Linked DNA regions of Homo sapiens: all the other regions are linked to region 4. Evidence: fine-mapped expression QTL. A gene starts in region 4. Each other region holds a variant in brackets. All regions are shown on one strand. Distances are between the middles of the regions.

The links. PIP is the estimated chance that this variant, and not a neighbour inherited with it, causes the effect. A credible set is the group of variants that fine-mapping cannot tell apart.
Region 1: its variant is the best candidate, but not a certain one, in a credible set for the expression of PLBD2 in whole blood (TOPMed, PIP 0.60).
Region 2: its variant is the best candidate, but not a certain one, in a credible set for the expression of PLBD2 in whole blood (INTERVAL, PIP 0.75).
Region 3: its variant is the best candidate, but not a certain one, in a credible set for the expression of PLBD2 in blood mononuclear cells (TOPMed, PIP 0.85).

Annotation. Positions count from the first base shown.
Region 1 is chr12:113,399,250-113,404,396 of GRCh38, forward strand. SDS (serine dehydratase) reads right to left here and starts at 4,638. Exons shown (of 8, transcript NM_006843.3): 1 at 4,519-4,638; 2 at 307-461. The coding sequence starts at 459. RefSeq lists enhancers at 2,075-2,576, 2,577-3,076. The variant G/A (reference allele first, on the strand shown) is at 2,445.
Region 2 is chr12:113,143,744-113,148,890 of GRCh38, forward strand. No RefSeq gene overlaps it. Among named protein-coding and RNA genes, the nearest start is that of CFAP73, 3.4 kb to the right of the region's middle. The variant C/A (reference allele first, on the strand shown) is at 2,315.
Region 3 is chr12:113,378,522-113,383,668 of GRCh38, forward strand. It overlaps PLBD2 (phospholipase B domain containing 2), which reads left to right. Exons shown (of 12, transcript NM_173542.4): 6 at 2,224-2,321. Among named protein-coding and RNA genes, the nearest start is that of PLBD2, 23 kb to the left of the region's middle. RefSeq lists an enhancer at 1,823-2,348. The variant C/T (reference allele first, on the strand shown) is at 2,541.
Region 4 is chr12:113,356,580-113,361,726 of GRCh38, forward strand. PLBD2 (phospholipase B domain containing 2) reads left to right here and starts at 2,008. Exons shown (of 12, transcript NM_173542.4): 1 at 2,008-2,311. The coding sequence starts at 2,022. LOC105369989 (a long non-coding RNA gene) reads right to left here and starts at 2,931. Exons shown (of 3, transcript XR_945346.3): 1 at 2,751-2,931. RefSeq lists silencers at 1,822-2,321, 2,372-2,431 and an enhancer at 2,767-3,266.

The DNA.
Region 1 (5,147 bases), 43 kb after region 4:
GGACGTTTCCTTCACTCAGAATTTGTTCTACCCTTGTCTGAGACTGCACCTCCCATCTCCAAAGAGACTGGCTCAGGAAAGGGTGGAGGAAAATAGGCGACTGATGGCTCTGGGATCAGTCCCAAGGAACCCTCCTGGAAGGGCACCCCTCAAACAGAGGAAGCCCTAATGGTGGACGCTCAGTCCTTGCGGGGAGTCAGTAGGCTTATCCTACAACGCCTTTAATTTCACACAGCACTGGCCCTGCCCTGTTGAGGAAGGAGGACCTGCCACCCCTGCCCAGATAATGCTGACCCGGTCCCGTACCCTCTTGCAGAAGTGCCCAATGCCCCGGATCTTGAAGGAGCCGGAGGGCTGGGCACTGTCCATCTTGAGGTAGACGCTGGTGCCGGCCATTTTGGACAGGGCCATGCTGTCACGGATGGGGGTCTTCACGTGCAGGGGTTCTCCAGACATCATTCCTGGGAGAAAGGAAGGAAACCCAGAGGGTTAGGAGAGCTAGCCCCGGTGCCAGCACTGCCAGAGTGATCCCTTCCTTCGCTTCCCAGCAAGCCAAGCAAGGCCTCAGACGAGAGAGCATCCTGGAGACCTGGGCTCTAATCGCAAGTGGGCCACCTACTCACCATGTGACATCAGACAGGTAATCACGCCTTGGCCTCAGCTCTATCAGGGATCACCCTCCACTCCTGACCTCTCACACATTTGCTGGGAGGCTGAAGAGAGAACACTCAAACCTTGGAGCTTTCAAAATGCATGAGGTGAGGCCGGGCACAGTGGCTTATGCATGTAATACCAGCACTTTGGGAGGCCAAGGCTGGTGGATCACAAGGTCAGAAGTTCGAGACCAGCCTGGCCAACATGGTGAAACCCCGTCTCTACTAAAAATACAAAAAATTAGCTGGGCATGGTGGCGCACGCCTGTAACCCCAGCTACTTAGGAGGCTGAGGCAGGAGAATCACTTGAACCCAGGAGGCGGAGGTTGCAGTGAGCGAGATCGCGCCATTGCACTCCTGCCTGGGTGACAGAGCAAGACTCTGTCTTGAGAAAAAAAAAAAAAAGAAGAAGAAAGAGAATTAGCCAGGCATGGTGGCAGGCACCTGTAATCTCAGCTACTCAGGAGGCTGAGGGAGGAGCATCACTTGAACCGAGGAGGTGGAGGTTGTAATGGGCCAAGATCGAGCCACTGCACTCCAGCCTGGGCAACAGAGTGAGACTGTGTCTCAAAAAAAAAAAAGAATAGTCTATCTATCTATGTGAAAAATTCAGGGACACCCACACACACAGATAATCCATCCACACACACATACTCCATCCACACACACACGATCCACTCCCACACACAATCCATCCACACACACGCACAATCCATCCACACACACATATAGTCCACATGTTTCTTTTATATATTTTTTTAATTTTTTTATTTGAATTTTTTTTTGTTTTGTTCCACATGTTTCCATGTGCACAGAGCATTTCAGGAAACATGCATGACAGGCTGGCCAGGGTGGGGCCTCTGAGGAGAGCTGGCCCTCGGGATCATAGCACCCACCTTTTGCACAGTTTGATGTTTTACCATGTGCCTCTATTACTTACTTAAATGCATACATTTAAAAAAAACCTGGGCTGGGCGCGGTGACTCACACCTGTAATCCCAGCACTTTGGGAGGCCGAAGCGGGCGGATCACGAGGTCAGGAGATCGAGACCATCCTGGCTAACATGGTGAAACCCCGTCTCTACTAAAAATACAAGCTACTTGGGAGGCTGAGGCAGGAGAATGGCGTGAACCCGGGAGGCGGAGCTTGTAGTGAGCCGAGATCGCGCCACTGCACTCCAGCCTCGTCTACAGATCGAGACTCTGTCTCAAACAAACAAACAAACAAACAAAAACAACCTGGCAGCTGGCTCTTCTGACATGCAGTTCCAAGTATCTTGGCTTAAATGGACGATCCCAGGACCCAGCAAAATGCCTGACTCATAGTAGATGTTCAATAAATATTTATTTAAAAAAAAACAAAATAACCTAACTTTTGGGAAGCCCAATATTCAGTTAGGAAAAGCTCTTTCATAATTATTAATTTTGTCATAATTATTATAGCAGTGACTAATCACAGCTTTTAAATTTTATTCATTCATTCATTCATTCATTCATTCATTCATTCCAGTAGAGATGGGGTTTTGCTATGTTGGCCAGGCTGGTCTCCAACTCCTGGCCTCAAGCGTTCTGCCCACCTCAGCCTCCCAAACTGCTGGGATTACAGGCATGAGCCACAGCACCTGGCTTGCTGTTGTTTTAAGTCACATTTTGGGGTAGTTTGGTACACAGCAACAGGAAGGGGAATATTAACATAATTTGCCCAAAGTCACGCTGTGAGTGAGGCAGGGAGGCAGGATTTGAACTCGGGCAGCTGGCTCCAGGGCTCAGGCTCTCTCTGCGACCCATGG[G/A]TGTGGCTCAGGCTCCTGCTTCTGGATGGGCTCTGGGGGATGAAGCAGCTGGGGTGGCCCGGGGTCTAGCCACAGCCACGTCCACCCACCCAGCCTTCCCATCTCCCCTGCCTTCTGCTGAGAGTCTCAGGGAGGATTTGATTCTCCTCAACTTGGGCCGGGCCAGAAGAGATCAGCTGACGATGGCCAAGGGGCTCTCTGGTTCCCCCTCCCTCCACCATCCCAGAAGGCCAGGCAAGGGTGGCTAGCCAGAGACCCATCTCCAATGCCACCTTGTCCAGCCCCCTGTCCTGGGCACTCCTAGCTTGGACATCCATCCCCCGCTCCCAGAATGAGCCAGACATCCCTTGGTCAGAGGGAGAATGAGGGGTGGGGATTCCAACTGCCCCGCCAGACTTAGCATCCCCTAAATAGGTCACCCCTTGTCTATCTGAATTAACTGACATTCGGGGCCTGGGAGGGGAACTTGAACAGACACCCTCTCTCCGCTGGATCTCTCGAATAAAAATCAGAGACTGGGGCAAACTTCAAAACAGGACATCCCCAAATCGGCATGAACTTTCAGCTCCTGGAGGTTAATCCCCAAACAATGGGATCCCGGTTTTTATTTAGTTATTTTTAGAGAACCTCCCTCTGTCACCCAGGCTGGAGTGCAGCGGCATGATCTCGGCTCACTGCAACCTCCGCCTTCTGGGTTCAAGCGATTTTCCTGCCTCAGCCTCCCAAGTAGCTGGGATCACAGACGTGCACCACCACGCCCGAATAATTTTTGCATTTTTAGTGGAGACAAGGTTTCACCATATTGGGCAGGCTGGTCTCGAACTCCTGACCTCAAGTCATCTGCCTGCCTTGGCCTCCCAAAGTGCTGGGATTACAGGCGTGAGCCACCACACCGACTGACTTGACATTAAAGGCCGGTGTAGGTCACCAAGGCCTGGCCTCAGGGACAATCGGGGTGGGAGTCAGAGGAGCCGGCCACGAAGACCCTTTTCAGGTGGGTTTGGGGCGCCTCTCTCGCCGTTTGTCCCAGGCGGTGCCATGGGATGCCTTCAGGTAAAAGGACAGGGCTCCCTCTGCCGCGGCTTTCCGTGAAGTGAGCATCCATTAACTGCATCCAGCCTGCCCCAAGGATCCCTGCCCCAAGGATCGCAAGACTTCAGAAGAGGTTGTGCCCGGGGAGGAGGAGGGAGGGAGCCCTGAAGCCGCTGTCTGCCCACTCCGGCAGTCGGAAGCCACCTTCCCTTTCACTTGGTTCACAGTAAGTGCTCAGTCGATATGAACTATTATGAAATCTGGGCTGGACACCTTAAGTGCAGGTCATCCTTTCACCGTCACAACCACCTGAGGAGGAAGGCGCTATGCTCATCCCCATTCTACAGATGTGGAAGCTGAGGCACAGAACTGGACACAAACTCAGTGTTTAGGCCCAAATGGCTGTTTTTTAAAAATTTGAGACAAGGTCTTGCTGTGTCACCCAGGCTGGAGTGCAGGGGCGCAATAATTGCTCACTGCAGACTCGACCTCTTGGGCTCCAGCGATCCTCCCAACTCAGCCTTCCCAGTAGCTGGGACTACAGGTGTGCACCACCACACTATACTAATTAAATTCTTTTTTTAGGTCAGGAGTTCGAGACCAGCCTGGCCAACATGGTGAAACCCCATCTCTACTAAAAATACAAAAATTAGCCGGGCGTGGTGGCACACGCCTGTAGTCCAAGCTACTCGGGAGGCTGAGGCAGGAGAATCGCTTGAACCCAGGAGGTGGAGGTTGCAGTGAGCCCAGATTGTGCCATTGCACTTCAGCCTGGGTGACAGAGTGAGACCTCTGTCTTAAAAAAAAAAAATTTTTTTTGTAGAGATTGGGGGGGGTCTCACTCTGTTGCCCAGCTCAGTCTTGAACTTGTGGCCTCAAGCAACCCTCCCACCTCAGCCTTCCAAAGTGTTGGGATTACAGGCATCAGCCACCATGCCCAGCCTTGACAGACTCTTTCTATGTCTCCCTCTTCCCCTGGGAAACCACAGGCTAGCCCGGGACACTCCAGTCCTGAGGTGGGACTGAGGATGGGGCCACTTACCCGGCAAAGGTGATGGGTCTGAGCAGGAGTCAGAGCCAAGCCAGCGAGGGAGGGATCAACTGAGTAGATAGCCCACGAAGAGAGGGGGCTGAGGACGGGTGGACAGTCTTCTGAATGGTCCCAGGGGCTACTTGGTCCTGGGCTTTATTCCTCTGGCACCTCTGGGCAGCCAATGGGGCCCTGGGGCTGGCTACACCCCCCCCTCCCTCCTGCCAGGACCCACCCCCCTGGCTTGAGGCCACTGAGGCTGTCAGAAGGGAGGTGGAATCTGGCCAAGCTTTCTTCTTTGGCAGCTTCCTCCTGCCTTTCCCACAACCCACTCCTCCTCCCTCTTTCCACTTCCCCTTTCTGTCCTCAGTTTCGTGAAAGGAAAATAAAAAATTGGGACCCCCAACTCACTATGCCAAAAGAAAAAGAATTAAGCTAAAAGCTGAGTCATGTAAGAAACTGCCTTTCCTTTAGTTCCTAAGCAGATAGCTTCAGATGAAAGGTTAAATATTGGCTCCGCATTTTGGGAGGCCGAGGCGGGTGGATCACCTGAGGTCAGGAATTCGAAACCAGCCTGGCCAACATGGTGAAATCCCGTCTCTACTAAAAATACAAAAATCAGCCGGGTGTGGTGGCACGTG
Region 2 (5,147 bases), 210 kb before region 4:
GGTGAGCCAAGATTGTGCCATTGCACTCCGGCCTGGGCAACAAGAGAGAAACTCCGTCTCAAAAAAAATAAAAATAAAAATAAGAATAGAAATTGCTGGTGTGGTGGCTCACGCCTGTAATCTCAACACTTTGAGAGGCTGAGGCGGGAGAATCACTTGAGCCCAGGAGTTTGAGACCAGCCTAAGCAACATAGCAAGACCTCATCTCTACAAGAAATTTTAATAATTACGGCCGCACACGGTGGCTCATGCCTGTAATCCCAGCACTTTTGGAGGCCAAGGCAGGCGGATCACCTGAGGTCAGGAGTTTGAGAGCAGTCTGGCCAACATGGTGAAACCCCATCTCTAATGCCTGTAATCCCAACACTCTGGGGGACCGAGGTAGGAGGAGGCCGAGGTAGGAGGCTCTCCTGAGGCCAGGAGATCAGGACCAGCCTGGGCAATGTAGTAAGACCCCATCTCTACAAAAAAATTTTTTAAACTTAGCCTAGCACGGTGGTGCACACCTGTAGTCACAGCTACTGAGAAGGCTGAGGTGGGAGGATTGCTTAAGCCCTTTAGCCTGGGCGACAGAGTGAGACTCTGGCTCTAAAATAAATAAATAAATAAATAAATAAAACTCTACAGTTAAAAACAATCCAGTTAAGACATAGGCAAGAGGCGTTTCACTGAACTGAACATATATTTTACTGAGGAGGATATACAGATGGCAAACAAGCACATGAAAAGATGTTCAACTTCATTAGCCTTTAAAGAAATGCAAAATAAAAACACAATGTGCTATCACTACATGCCTATCAGAATGGCTGAAATAAAAAAATAGTGATCACAGCAAAGATACAGAGACACTGGATCATTCATTTTTTGCTGGTGGAAATGTAAAATGTGCAGCCCCTATGCAAAAGAATATGAGAGGTTTTTTTAAATTTTTTAATTTAATTTTTTTTTTTTTGAGATGGAGTCTCACTCTGTCCCCCAGGCTGGAGTGCAGTGGTGCGATCTCAGCTCACTGCAACTTCTGCCTCCTGGATTCAAGCAATTCTTCTGCCTCAGTCTCCCAAGTAGAGTAGCTGGGATTGCAGGTGTGCACCACCATACCAGGTTAATTTTTGTATTTTTAGTAGAGATGGAGTTTCACCATGTTGGCCAGGCTGGCCTCGAACTCCTCCTGACCTTAGGTGATCTGTCCGCCTCAGCCTCCCAAAGTGCTGGGAGAAGTGCTCAGCTCACTCTGTTGCAGCCTGGGTGGCTGGGAGAACAGCGTGAGCCACCATGACCGGCTGGCAGCTTCTTTAAAAACGAAATGTCACTTACCATACAGCCCAACAATTTCACTCTTGGGCATTTATCCCAAAGAAATAAAGGCATAGGCTCACACAAAAAGTAGCACATGAATCTTCATGGCATATATATATATTCTTTATATATATAATTTATTTATATGTATATATATTTTATATATGTATGTATATATTTTGGAGACATGGTCTCACTCTGTCGCCCAGGCTGCAGTGCAGTGATGTGATCACAGCTCACTGCAGCCTTGACCTCACAGGCTCCTGCCTCAGTCTCCCAAGTAGCTAGGACCACAGGCCTGTGCCACCAAACCCAGCTGATTTTTCTTTTCTTTTTTTTTTTTGTAGAGACAGGGTCTCTCTATGTTATCCAGACTGACTTTGAACTCCTGGGTTCAAGAGATCCTCCTGCTTCAGCCTACCAAAGTGCCAAGATTACAGGCATGAGCCACTGCACCTGACCCAGCTTTACTCTTAATAGCTTTATTCTTAAAAACTGGAAATGACCCAAATGTCCTTCAGCCTGAATGGTTAAACAAACTGTGGTACACCCATACCATGGCATGCTGCTCAGCAATCCAAAGGAACAAACTATCGATACATACAACAACCAGGATGGATCTCAAGAGAATTACGCGTAGTGAAAAAAGCCAATCTCAGAAGGTTACATACTGAAAGATTCCCTTTCTCTCCCCTCCCCTCCCTTCCCCCACCCCTGCTCCCCCCTCCCCCTCCTTCCTTTTGAGACAGGGTCTTGCTCTGTCACACAGGCTAGAGTGCACTGGCGGGATCATGGCTCACTGCAGACTCTGTCTCCCAGGATCAAGTGATCCTCCCACTTCAACCTACCGAGTAGCTGAGACTACAGGCATGCGCCACCACGCCTGGATAACTTTTGTATTTTTTTGTAGAGACAGGATTGCATCATGTTGCCCAGGCTAGTGTCAAACTCCTGGAGTCAAACGATCCTCCTGCCTCGGCCTCTCAAAGTGTTGGAATTACAGGCGTGGCCACCGTGG[C/A]TGGCCAATTCCATTTCTCTAACATCCTTGACATGTCAAAATTATACAGATGAAGAACAGAGGAATGGTTGTCAGGGCTTAGGGAGGGGAGAAGCAGGAGACCAGTATGCCTCTAAGTGAACCTTGTGATGAACTGTTCTGTATTTTGACTATAGTGGTTGTCACATAAATATACCTGAGGCAAGGCTGCATAGAACTAAATATACACACACACACACATACCCATGAATGCATGTTAGAATGGTGAAATCTGAGTGAGTTCAGTGGGTTGTATCAATGCCAACTTTCTGATTGTGATATTGTACTATAGTTACGCAAGATGTTACCACTGGAGAAAACTGGGTGGAAGGGATATGGGATCTCTCTGTATTGGTCCTTAAACTGCATGTAAATCTACAGTTATCTCAAAAATTAAAATGTAATCTAGGCCGGGTGTGGTGGCTAACGCCTATAATCTCAGCAGTTTGGGAGGCAGAGGCAGGCGGATAGCTTGAGCACACAAGTTCAAGACCAGCCTGGACAACATGGTGAAACCCCACCTACAAAAAATACAAAAATTAGCTGGGTGTGGTGGCACCTGACTGAGGTCCCAGTTTCTTGGGAGGCTGAGGTGGGAGGATGGCTTGAGTCTGGGAGGTAGAGGTTGCAGTGAGCCAAGATCATGCCACTGCATTCCAGCCTTGTGGTAGAGCCAGACCTTGTCTCAAAAAAAAAAAAAAAAAATTAAACCATAATCTATACTACAATACAACTATTAAAATGACCTTTTTTTTTTTTTGAGACAGAGTCTCACTCTTATCACCCAGGCTGGAGTGCAGTGGTGCAATCTCAGCTCACTGCAACCTCTGCCTCCCAGGTTCAAGCGATTCTCCTGCCTCAGCCTCCTGAGTAGCTGGGATTACAGGCACATGCCCCCATGCCCAGCTGATTTTTGTATTTTTAGTAGAAACTGGGTTTCACCATGTTGCTCAGGCTGGTCTTGGTGACCTCAGGTGATCCACCTGCTTCAGCCTCCCAAAGTGCTGGGAATACAGGCATGAGCCACCACACCCGGCCATAAAATGACTTTTTAAAAAACTGACAATACCAACTGCTGGTGAGGATATGGAGCAACTAGAACTCTCCTAATGGAGCAACTAGAACTCTTGTACATTGCTAGTGTGAATATAAAAATAGTACAGCCACCTTGAATAACAGCTTGCAGTTTTTTATACAGTTAAACATACACTTACCATACGACACAGCAATACCACTCTGACATATTTACACAAGTGAAATGAAAACTTATGTTTGCACAAAAACCTGCACATGAATACAGCCTGTATTTGCAAGTGCCCAGAACTGGAAGCAACTCACCTGTCTTTCATCTGGGGAATGAATCAACAAACTATAGTATTCATAATATAATGTACCCGGCAATGAAAAAGAATGAGCTACTGATACACATATCAATATGAATGAATCTCAAATGAATATTACTAAGTGAAAGAAGACAGACTCAAAGGGCTACAAAGTGTATACCGTGATTTCATGTATGATATCCTGCAAAAGGTAAAACTCGAAGGACAAAGAATATGTAGAAGTTGCCAGAGGCTGGTGTGGAGGGAAGGGTTGATTATAAAGGGGCACAAGGGCTTTTTGGGGTGATGGAAATGTTTTGTATGTTGATTGTGGTGGTGATTACATGACTTTATGCATTTGCCAAAATCCATAGAATGGTATATGGAAAAAGTGACTTTTACTTTTTGTAAAAGATACCTTTATCTTTTAAAAAATTAAGAAAAAAATGAAGCCAGGCAAGGTGGCTCACGCCTGTAATCCCAGGACTTTGGGAGGCTGAGGCGGGCAGATCGCCTGAAGTCAGGAGTTCATGACCAGCCTGGCCAACATGGCAAAAACCCATCTCTACTAAAAATACAAAAAACTAGCCAGATGCGGTGGCGCGCGCCTTCAATCTCAGCTACTCCAGAGGCTGAGGCAGGAGACTCGCTTGAACCCAGGAGGCAGAGGTTGCAGTGAGAGGAGATCGTGCCACTGCACTCCAGCCTAGGTCACAGAGCAAGACTCCATCTCAAAAAAAAAAGAATGAAAAAATGAGATCATATCTTATTGTAACTTCACATCAATTTGTGCAGAAAGACAGCATGTCCAATTTAATTTTTAAAAATGCTCAAAGGTAAAATGTACATTATTTTAGTTCTTTTTAATTTCTTAGATATTGATTGATTGATTGATTGAGACAGGGTCTTGCTCTGTTGCCCACGCTGGAGTGCAGTGGAGTGATCATAGCTCACTGCAACCTCAACCTCCTGGGCTCAAGTGATCCTCCTGCCTCAGCTTCCCGAGTAGCTGGAACTATAGACACATGCCACTATCCCCAGCTAATCTTATTATTTTTTGTAGAGATGGGGTCTCTCTGTGTTACACAGGCTGGGCTGGAACTCCTGGGCTCAAACAAGCCTCCCACCTTGGCCTCCCAGAGTGCTGAGATTACAGGCATCAGCCACCGCACCCGGCCCTAGTTCTGTTTTTTAAAACATGCTCTAACGAAATCCTTAGGAGTTTTTTAAGCAATGTAGGATTACAAGGAACTATAGGTTTTTGAAACAGCATTGCTCTACATTAAGAAAATACATTTCTTTGAATGGAAAATAAATTATTTAAAATGGAAAATAAAATGACCGGAAGCAGGGAGGACAAGATGCTAGTGTTTGTTGCTTTGAATTGAAGAACCCAAGGGTACTTTTTATATTACTCTTGGTACTTTTCCCTAGTACCATCCACCCCCCACAGGGCTGTCTTAGGGATTAATTTAGATACTATAGAGTGCTGA
Region 3 (5,147 bases), 22 kb after region 4:
TTTGTTTTTCAAATTACTTATTTTGAGACAGGGTCTCACTGTGTTGCCCAGGCTGGTCACAAACTTCTAGCCTCAGGTGATCCTCCTGCCTCAGCCTCCCAAAGCACTGGGATTTCAGGTGTGAGCCTCTGCGCTGGGTCCCACTGTGCCTTTTTCCTTTCCTTTTTTTTTTTTTTTTCTTTGAGACAGAGTCTCACTCTGTTGCCCAGGCTGGAGTGCAGTGGCACAATCTCGGCTCACTTCAACCTCCGCCTCCCAGGTTCAAGCAATTCTCCCACTTCAGCCTCCTGAGTAGCTGGGACTACGGGCATGCACCCCCAACCTGGCTAATTTTGTATTTTTAGTAGAGATGGGGTTTCACCATGTTGGTAAGGCTGGTCTCAAACTCCTGGCCTCCTGACCTTGGCCTTCCAAAGTGCTGGGATTACAGGCGTGAGCCACTGTGCCCGGCCTACTGGTCCCTTTGTTTTAAAGTGCAAAGACTTAATGTGGAAGAGATAATTCAGGCCAGACGCGGTGGCTCATGCCTATAATTCTAGCACTTTGGGAGGCCGAGGCTGGTGGATCACTTGAGGTCAGAGTTCGAGACCAGCCTGGCCAATGTGGTAAAACCATGTCTCTACTAAAAATACAAAAATTAGCTAGACATGGTGGTAAATGCCTGTAATTGCAGTTACTCGGGAGGCTGAGACAAGAGAATCACTTGAACCTGGGAGGCAGAGGTTGCAGTGAGCCGAGATCCCCCCACTGCACTCTAGCCTGGGCAACAGAGCAAGACTCTGTCTCAAAAAAAAAAAAAAAAAAAAAAAGACAAAGGATAATTCAGAGAGCTACACCCAGAACTCTGGAGCACTGTAGGGAAGAGGTCTGGGTAGAATCCCTGCTCAGCCATTTAACTGTTTGGCCTCTGCTAAGTTACTTAGCCTTTCTGAGTCTCAGATTGCCTTATCTGCAAAGTGCAGATGATAATTCTCTGCCCCCATGCAGGGCGGGTATAAGGAGTCAATTTACAAGATCACAGGGGTAATGAGCCTCCAGCATAAGCGTGAGGTCACAGTAGCCCTGCTGCAGACAGTGCATAAAACCAGACTAGCACTTGTCAAGGGATGGGTTTCAGGTAGAAGGAGTTCTAGGGCAGGGGTGAGGGTACCTGCCGGGGGTGGGCCTGTAATCCCAGCTACTCGGGAGGCTGAGGCAGGAGAAGCGCTTACAACTGGGAGGTGGAGGTTGCAGTGAGCTGAGATCGCCCCATTGCACTCCAGCCTGGGCAAAAAGAGCGAAACTCTGTCTCAAAAAAAAAAAATGTCCAGTGAACAAAATATTTATCTGTTTGTCTATCTATCTGAGTATATATATTTAACACATACACATATACCCACGCACACACAGAGTTGTCCCTTGGTGTTGGGGAGGGAGTTGACTCCAGGAGCCCCTGTGGAAGCTCAGGTCTCTTCTATAATACGGCTGACTGTTTACCTATAACATATACATATCCTCCCATATCCTATAATCATCTCTAGATTACTTGTAAGACCTAATACAATGCTACATTAATAGTTGTTATACTGTATTTTTAAAATTTGTTTTATCTTTTAGTGTTATTTCTTTTATTTATTTATTTATTTATTTTTTTTAGATGGAGTCTCACTCTGTCGCCCAGGCTGGAGTGCAGTGGCGCGATCTCGGCTCGCTGCAAGCTCTGCCTCCCGGGTTCACGCCATTCTCCTGACCCAGCCTCCCAAGTAGCTGGGACTATAGGCGCACGCCACCACGCCTGGCTCATTTTTTGTATTTTTAGTAGAGACGGGTTTCACCGTGTTAGCCAGGATGGTCTTGGTCTCCTGACCTCGTGATCCGCCTGCCTTGGCCTCCCAAAGTGCAGGGATTACAGGTGTGAGCCACTGCACCCAGCTGTGTTGTTTCTTTTTAATCATGTTTTTTTCCTAGTATTTTTGGTCCCCAGTCGATTGAATCCAAGGATGTGGAACCCACGGACATGGAGGGCCAACTATATAAGTTTTGCTGCTAGCTTTTATTTTTACTTGCACGTATATGCACTTTTATATGCCCAATGACCTCATTTGCTAAATGACAAAAAGGACACAGTGGGGGCTTCCTCGGAGGCCTGCCTGTGCCCCTGTGCCTGTGTCTTGTTAGGTAGGGTGCAGGGGCCTCCACCTGTGCCTGTCTGACCAGCATCCCTGGCTCGCTCTGCCTGCACAGGGGACTACCCGCTGGTTCCCGGCAACAAGCTGGTCTTCTCCTCCTACCCCGGCACCATCTTCTCCTGCGACGACTTCTACATCCTGGGCAGTGGGCTGGTGAGTCCCTTTCTCATGTCTCCTCTGTTCCTGGGGTGTTTGTCACACGGCGGCTCTGAGCTGGCAGGATTGATTCCTGCGGCAAGTGGGGACCAGGCTGCAGCCCAGTGCTGGGTGCCATGTAGGAGCCAGGGGTGCAGTGGAGGATGAGGTGGACGCTGCCCCACCTGCCATTCAGAGCCCAGACTCGCCCTTCCCCTGCTCTGGGGACTTGGACCA[C/T]CACAAGGGCGTGTTTAAACATAGACCCCCAGGCCCCGCACAGGGCCTCCAAAACCTGCAGATGGCCTGGGACTCTGCATGTAACCCTGGTTGTCAGGAAAGGCTGGACTTGGGGATGTTTGGGACTATCCCTGACCTCAGTGACCTCACTTGTTTTTATGTATTCAGGATAACTGTGCCCCCGCCCCCCCCACATCCCCACCGCTTCCCTCTCCTCCTGCCTCCCTCTTGCTTTCCTCAGAGCCCCTCTGACCTGACCAGGTTTGCTGAATAGAGGCTGTTTACAGTGTGTTGTTTTCATCTTTTTTCCTGGCTGCGGTCCAGACTTGTTTAGAAATCTGTCCCTGGCACCCCTCGCTGAGAAAGTGAACCCTTTGATCTCCAGGGCAACGAGACAGAGGAGAAAAAACATCACTCTAAAAAACACCCTTAGCGCAGAGAACGCCAGCTCCCTGCGGGGACGGGAGGGGTGGGGACTCTTCTTCTTGTCTGATCCTTGCTTTTTTCTGAGTGTGGAACGAGGCAAGAGAGGGCCAGGCGGTGGGTGAGGGAACCCCCATGCTGTGGCCCAGGTGGGGAAGGGGACTGAGGCAGCTGGGGAGGGACACGTGAAATGGTTCCACCTGGTTACCAGGAAAGGGTCTGGGCAGGAAACTTCCCTTCCATCAGGGTCCCTAACTGTTTTTGTGCCATAAACACCTTGGGCAGTCCAGGAGGCTGTTGGCCCTCTTCTCAGAATAGTGTTTTAACTTTTATTATTTATTTATTTTTTTTCATAGAGATAGGGTCTCTCTCTGTCACTCAGGTTGGAATGCAGTGGTGTGATCGTGGCTCACTGCAACCTCCCACCTCCTGGGTTCAGGCGATCCTCCTGCCTCAGCCTCCTGAGTAGCTGGGACTACAGGCACATGCCACCATGCTCAGCTAATTTTTAAATTTCTTGTAGAAATGAGGTCTCACTATATTTCCCAGGCCAGTCTCGAACTCCTGGGTTGAAGGGATCCTCCTACCTCAGCTTCCGAAAGTGCTGGGATTATAGGTGTGAGCCACTGTGCCTGGCAAATTAGTGTTTTTAGACACATAAACCAAAATGTATAGGATTATGGAGGAAACCAGTTATAGTGAAATATGGTTATCAAAATATAAGTAAACTTTTAGTATATATGTGCTGCTTTATTAACACACTGAATAATAAGATCCAGAAGCAGGTGTGATAAATACCATAAGTTAGAAGAAGCAAGGTGCATGAATGATACTTTAAGGTATGTACAGCCTTGTAATCTGATGGAAAAACATCTGTGATTTCTGACAGTGACCGTCCCAGTGACTACTAATACCACTGTGGTGTGTCACGTTAACAGTGGAAAGAAATACCAAATTTCAGGATTTTTTTTTTTCAGAGATAGGATCTCACACTGTCATGCAGGCCTGAGTGCAGTGGCATGATCACAGCTCACTGCAGCCTCTATCACCTCAGCCTCAAGCGATCCTCCCATCTCAGCCTCCCAAGTAACTGGAACTATAGGCGCCTGCCACCATGCCTGGCTAATTTTTTTATTTTTTGTAGAGACAGGTTTTGCCATGTTACCCAGGCTGGTCTTGACCTCCTGGGCTCAAGCAATCTGACCCCCTTGGCCTCCCAAAGTGCTGAGCCACTGTGTCCAGCCTTTTTTTTCCTCTTTAAAGAGAAAAAAGAAAAAATCACATTTATGGATACAGCTATCTTTTAGCTGTTCTCAGCTTTTTGGTGGGGGTGGTGGTGGTGGTGGTTTTTTGTGTGTGTGTGTGTGTGTGTGTGTGTGTGTGTTTTTTTTTTTTTTTTTTTTTTTAGATAGGCTCTCTCTCTGTTGCCCAGGCTGGAGTGCAGTGGCACGATCTCAGCTCACTGCAACCTTCGCTTCCAGGGTTCAAGTGATTCTCATGCCTCAGCCTCCGAATAGCTGGGATTACATGAGTTTTGTTTGGTTTGGTTTTTAACTCACAAGAACTAAGCTTTACTTTTCAAATATGCTGAAGGCAGCCAAGGGTTCCAGCAGGAAATGGAGAAGGGAGAGGAGGCAATCGGAGGCAGCGGTGGGCATCCTGCATGCCCCAAGGCTGGAGGGAGACTGAGGGCCTCTCCTGTTGTAAGGCCTCCTAGTCCTCTGACTGCTGCATCTGCCAGGCTGACAGCCTCAGGCCGTGCAACTTTTCCTGCAGAACTGTGGGAAAGGGGTGGGAATGGGAGGTTGCCCAGCTTGGTGAGGGAGTGGGTTCATGGGAGCGGCTCTTTGGGCCTCTCAGGGGCTGTTCACCAGGGCAAAGCTAGATGCATGATCCCAAATCCTCCTGCGTGCTTGTCCAAGGAACTGGTGGGGAACACGTGCCTCAACTGGATATGAGTTTTTATTTTTATTTATTTCTTCTTTTGTTACCCAGGCTGAAGTGCAGTGGCATGATCTGGGCTCACTGCAACCTCTGTCTCCTGGGTTCAAGTCATTCTCCTGCCTCAGCCTCTCCAGTAGCTGGGATTACAGGTGTATGCCACCACACCTGGCTAATTTTTGTATTTTTAGTAGAGACAGGGTTTTACCATGTTGGCCAGGCTGGTCTGGAACTCCTGACCTC
Region 4 (5,147 bases):
TTTTTGACAACTTCTTGCTCTGTTGCCCAGGCTGTAGTGCAACTCACTGTAGCCTCGACTTCCTAGGCTCAAGCAATCCTCCCCCCTCGGCCTCCCAGTAGCTGGGACTGAGGCAGAAATTAAAATAATAATAATAATAAGTACTACATATATTCACTCCAAGAGAAGTAAGAGCTAAGGCCCAGAATGTGGCAAGGCAAGGGTTAAAAAAGAAGAAGAACAAGTTTTCCTCTGCTTAGCAGCTCACTTCAAGGACAGTTATAAGATAACGCTGTCCGAAAAGCCAAGGCCAGAGGACTGGGCTCCAGACCCCGCCCTCCACCCCACCGCCCGCCTCCAGAGCAAGGTTGAAGGAAAAAAAAGAGAGAAAGACAAATTATTTTATTGCTATTCCTTTCCTTGGTCTCTTAAGCATGACTATGTTTTACAAACCTCTCTATTTAGCCAGTTCTTGTTTTACTTTTGATGCAGCTACAAGGCCACCAGCTATGCAAGGCCACAAGTTATGCACTATATGATTAACTACTTTTGTTTTACCTTTCTAAGCTTGCTTATAAAAACCCCACAATATCTTTGTTCTAGGCTCAGCTTTTTGGATGTGAATCCACTGAGCCAGTGCGTACGTTGAAATAAACATCCTCCTGTTCTCTCATATTGGTCTCTCCGTTCCTCAGTTTCCCACAACAGGACTACAGGTGTGCACCACCAAGCTCAGCTAATTTTTATATTTTATAGAGACAGAGTCTTGCCAGGTTTCCTAGGCTGGTCTCAAACTCCTGGGCTCAAGCATTCCTCCCACCTTGGCCACCCAAAGTGCTGTGATTACAGGCATGAACCACTCACCTGGCCTTCCCTCTCAAATTTTAAGAGTTCCTGATATATTATATGATATATGTTGAGATATATATACATATATATATGTAATGTATATATATGATATATGTTGCAAATAGTTTCTCCTGGTCTGTCAGATGTCTTTTGACTTTGCTTATTGAGTTTTTTGACATGAAAAAGTTAAAAAATTTATACAGTCAAATGCATTAATCTTTTATTGCATCTAGGTTTTTTTTTTTTTTTTTTTCTTTTGAGACAAGGTCTCATTCTGGTTGCTCAGGCTGGAGTGCAGTGGTGCAATCTCGACTCTCTGCAGCCTCGACCTTCCGGGCTCAGGTGATTTTCCTACCTCAGTCTCCCGAGTAGCTGGGACTATAGGCGCGCCTCACTGCGTCCGGCTACTTTTTTGTATTTTTAGTAGAGACGGGGGTTTCACCATGTTGCCCAGGCTGGTCTTGAACTCCTGAACTCGCCCGCCCTGGCCTCCTGGAGTGTTGGGATTACAGGCGTGAGCCACCGCGCCCGACGGCATCTAGGTTTTGAGTAGTAGTTAGACAGCTTTTTCCCACACACATGTAAAAAGGGTATTTGAGGGACAATGGGAAAAGTTGGAATAAAGACTGCATTAGATAACTGTATTAAATAAATGGCAAATACCATTAAATAAATCTGGCCGGGCGCGGTGGCTCACCCCTGTAATCCCAGCACTTTGGGAGGCTGAGGCAGGCGGATCACCTGAGGTCAGGAGTTCAAGACCAGCCTGGCCAACATGGCGAAACCCCGTCTGTACTGAAATTACATAAATCAGCTGGGCGTGGTGGTGCGCGCCTGTAATCCCACCTACTCAGGAGGATGAGGCAGGAGAATCGCTTGAACCCGGGAGGCGGAGGTGGCAATGAGCCGAGATCGCGTCACTGCACTCCAGTCTGGGCGACATATGGAGGTTTTGTCTTGTCTCAAAAAAAAAAAAAAAAAAAAACTTGGGGAAGTGTGCTAAACCGGGTTTGCGTAGGTGGAAGGGGCGGCCGGGCTCTTTAAGGTGGGTCCCGCCCCGTAGGCCTCCCCTCGCGCCAGCCCCTCCCATCCCGGAAAGGCTCAGCCCAAGCCCGGCCCCGCCCGCCCTCGGCCCCGCCCATGGCAGAGCGCAGTCACGTGACCCGGGCTGCGGGGCGCAGCATTGTGCGGTCATGGTGGGCCAGATGTACTGCTACCCCGGCAGCCACCTGGCCCGGGCGCTGACGCGGGCGCTGGCGCTGGCCCTGGTGCTGGCCCTGCTGGTCGGGCCGTTCCTGAGCGGCCTGGCGGGGGCGATCCCAGCGCCGGGGGGCCGCTGGGCGCGCGATGGGCAGGTCCCTCCAGCCTCCCGCAGCCGCTCGGTGCTCCTGGACGTCTCGGCGGGCCAGCTGCTTATGGTGGACGGACGCCACCCTGACGCCGTGGCCTGGGCCAACCTCACCAACGCCATCCGCGAGACTGGGTAAGGGTTGGCTTATCCCCACGCGGGGCCATCGGGGGAGGGGGATGCGTGGGCGCCGGACCTCGCCTGTTCCCGGGACCGGCCTCTTGCCGGGTGGGAACGCCCGTTTCTCTGGGGGTCAGCTACTCCCGAGGCTGCAGCACCGCCCTGCGGGCCAAGTACCCTGTTTGGGAGCTGGCTACTGCGGCATCCCTCACCTCATGGGGCCAGTCCCTTGCCTTCAGCCAGTGGTGACAGTACTTCTGTCCCCAAGAAGCCAGTTCCCTACCACCGAGGCCGCAGTGCCTGCATCTGGATCAGGTCCATGGCTGGTGGGTAAATTCTATCCTCACGGGGACCTGCTCCCTTCCCTAGACTTTGCCTCCTCACCCCATGGAGGCCAGCCCCCTGTCCCCAGGCCTGAGGGGTGATGAGAACTCAGCAGGAGACTAATTCTTACCTGCTTGGCTGTGGCTTGCTCGTGGGTGCCAGCACCCTGCCTCCCTTCCAGTGCCAGGTCAGCAGGACTGAACCTGGGTTCCAGGCTAGTCCAAAAGCAGAGGGTCCCTAAAGTCACATAGACCCATTTAGTATCCTGCTAGGGCTCTGCTCCTCCCTTGTCTTCTGTGTCCTGGTCCAAGGGGAAGTCCTTGGCTGGATGCCGTGTTTGGCAGCCATGCTCACCATCTTTATTGCTGGAACCCAGGCTGTCATTCTGATGTGTGAGTCTCACCTAACTCCTCCGCCTGTCTGGGCTCCCGTTTCCCCATCTGTGGCCCAGATTTTGAGGATGTGCTCTAGTTGGGTGGTCATGTGCTGCAAGTTCTGTACAAGGGCTTGTGCCCATTCATTTATTCATTACCCTGATGGTTGGCCTTAGGGACACAGCTGAGCAGCTGTCTCTACTCAGTGGGAAACACAGACAGCGATAGAAGAGAAATCAGAGTCAGTGGGAGTGGGAAGGATCAGCTTCAAAGCCTTGTCAGCAGGGCCCAGACGCTGGATCAGGCTGTGCTGGGGGATCCTAGGGAACCCGGGGTGCATCCGTCATATCCTAGTGTCCAGATGATGCTAGGGAACCCTAGCACTAGGATGTGCCCAGGATGTGGTCTGTGCTCAGACCACACTGCCCCCTGCAGCAGAAAGGGCCTCCTCCCACTTTAGCCCCTATCCATTTTACTGGCATCCATTGGCTTCTGCAGGTGTTAGGGAGACACAGGATGCCGAGGACACCCCCATTCTGGTGGCACTTGGGGGGTACATCAAGTAGACGTGAGATTTGGGGGAGATATTTGCACAGACACAGGGGCACTGGTTGGGGTAAATCTGGGAAGGCTCCCAGAGAGAGGAGGCCACAGAGTGAGCTGGCATCTGTGGAGGGAACTGAAGCTTTGTGGCTGGCCTCGGGGGCTGCCGGGACTCTTGGATCTGGTGACCCGTTCTTTGCTGACTCACTCATGTTTTTGGCCCTGCATAGCAGAATCAAGAGGACATGACAGAACTGTTCAGGCGAGGAGGGGCAGGAGCGAGGCCCAGCATGGGGAGGGGGCTTTGGCCTCTGGAGGCCCCTCCTGGGCTGTGTTGCTCTTGACTATGGTAAACATGGAAGTGGAGAGAAGGCTTCCTTGATTGTGCTGGATGGAAAGTTCTTCCAGGCTCAGCCCCTCTGCTGTGTGACCTTGGGCAAATCCCTTCACCTCTCTGAGCATGTTCCCTCATATCAAGGTAGGACCAAAAGGGTCATGGAAATTCACTGGGGTCACAGAAAGCACTGTTTATTTATTTTTATTTGTATTTTATTTTTTGAGACACAGTTTCACTCCGTTGCCCAGCTGGAGTGCAGGGGCACGATATTGGCTCACTGCAACCTCCCCACCCTGGGTTCAAGCGATTCTCGTGTCTCAGCCTCCCAAGTAGCTGGAATTACAGGTGTGTGCCACCATGCCCGGCTAATTTTTGTATTATTAGTAGAGATGGGGTTTCACCATGTTGGCCAGGCTGGTCTCAAACTCCTGACTTCAGGTGATCTGCCCATCTTGGACTTTCTGGCTTGTTTTCGGCACCCTCTCTCATCCCCTCCTCTTACGCTCACATGCCCCTTTCCCTTTGAGTTTGCCAGCCCTTGAGGCTCTGATGCAGGGAAAACCATAAAGCGAGCCCCATTTTATAGGCAGGAAACTGAGGTCCTCAGAGACAGCTGCTTGAGGACTCAGGGTCAGATGAAAGAAAGCCATAGGGGGTGTCCTGGCTCCTGATCAGCAGAATCTCTGATCTGTGGGGGACTCTGTGTCTTATTTCGGAGGGTGGGGGCAGGGATTTGATGCCTCTGTTCACTCAGAATTAGGATCCTCCTCCTTCCTGGTGAAATCCCCAGATTTTGCCACTGGGGATCCTGGGATTATCAGGATAAATTCTCCCTACACCATAATCCTTCGTCTTTTTTATTTTTTAAAAAAGGTTTTTTTTTTTTTGTTTTTTTTTTTTTTTTGAGACAGGGTCTCCCTGTGTTATCCAGGCTCGAGTGCAGTGGTATGATCATGGCTCACTGCAGCCTTGAACTCCCAGGCTCAAGAAATCCTCCGACCTCGGCCTCCCAAGTAGCTGGGACTATAGATACGCACCCCCATGCCTGGCTAATTTTTAAATTCTTTTTTTTTGTAGAAACAGGGGTCTTGTCATGTTGCCCAGGCTGGTCTTGAACTCCTGGGCTCAAGTGATCCTCTCACCTTAGCATCCCCAAATGTTGGGATTACAGATGTGAGCCACTGTGCTCGGTACCTTCTTTCAGTTGTGCCATATCTTGACTTTGGGCCAACACCCCCACACAGCCTGGAAACATTTATGATTTGGTGCTTGG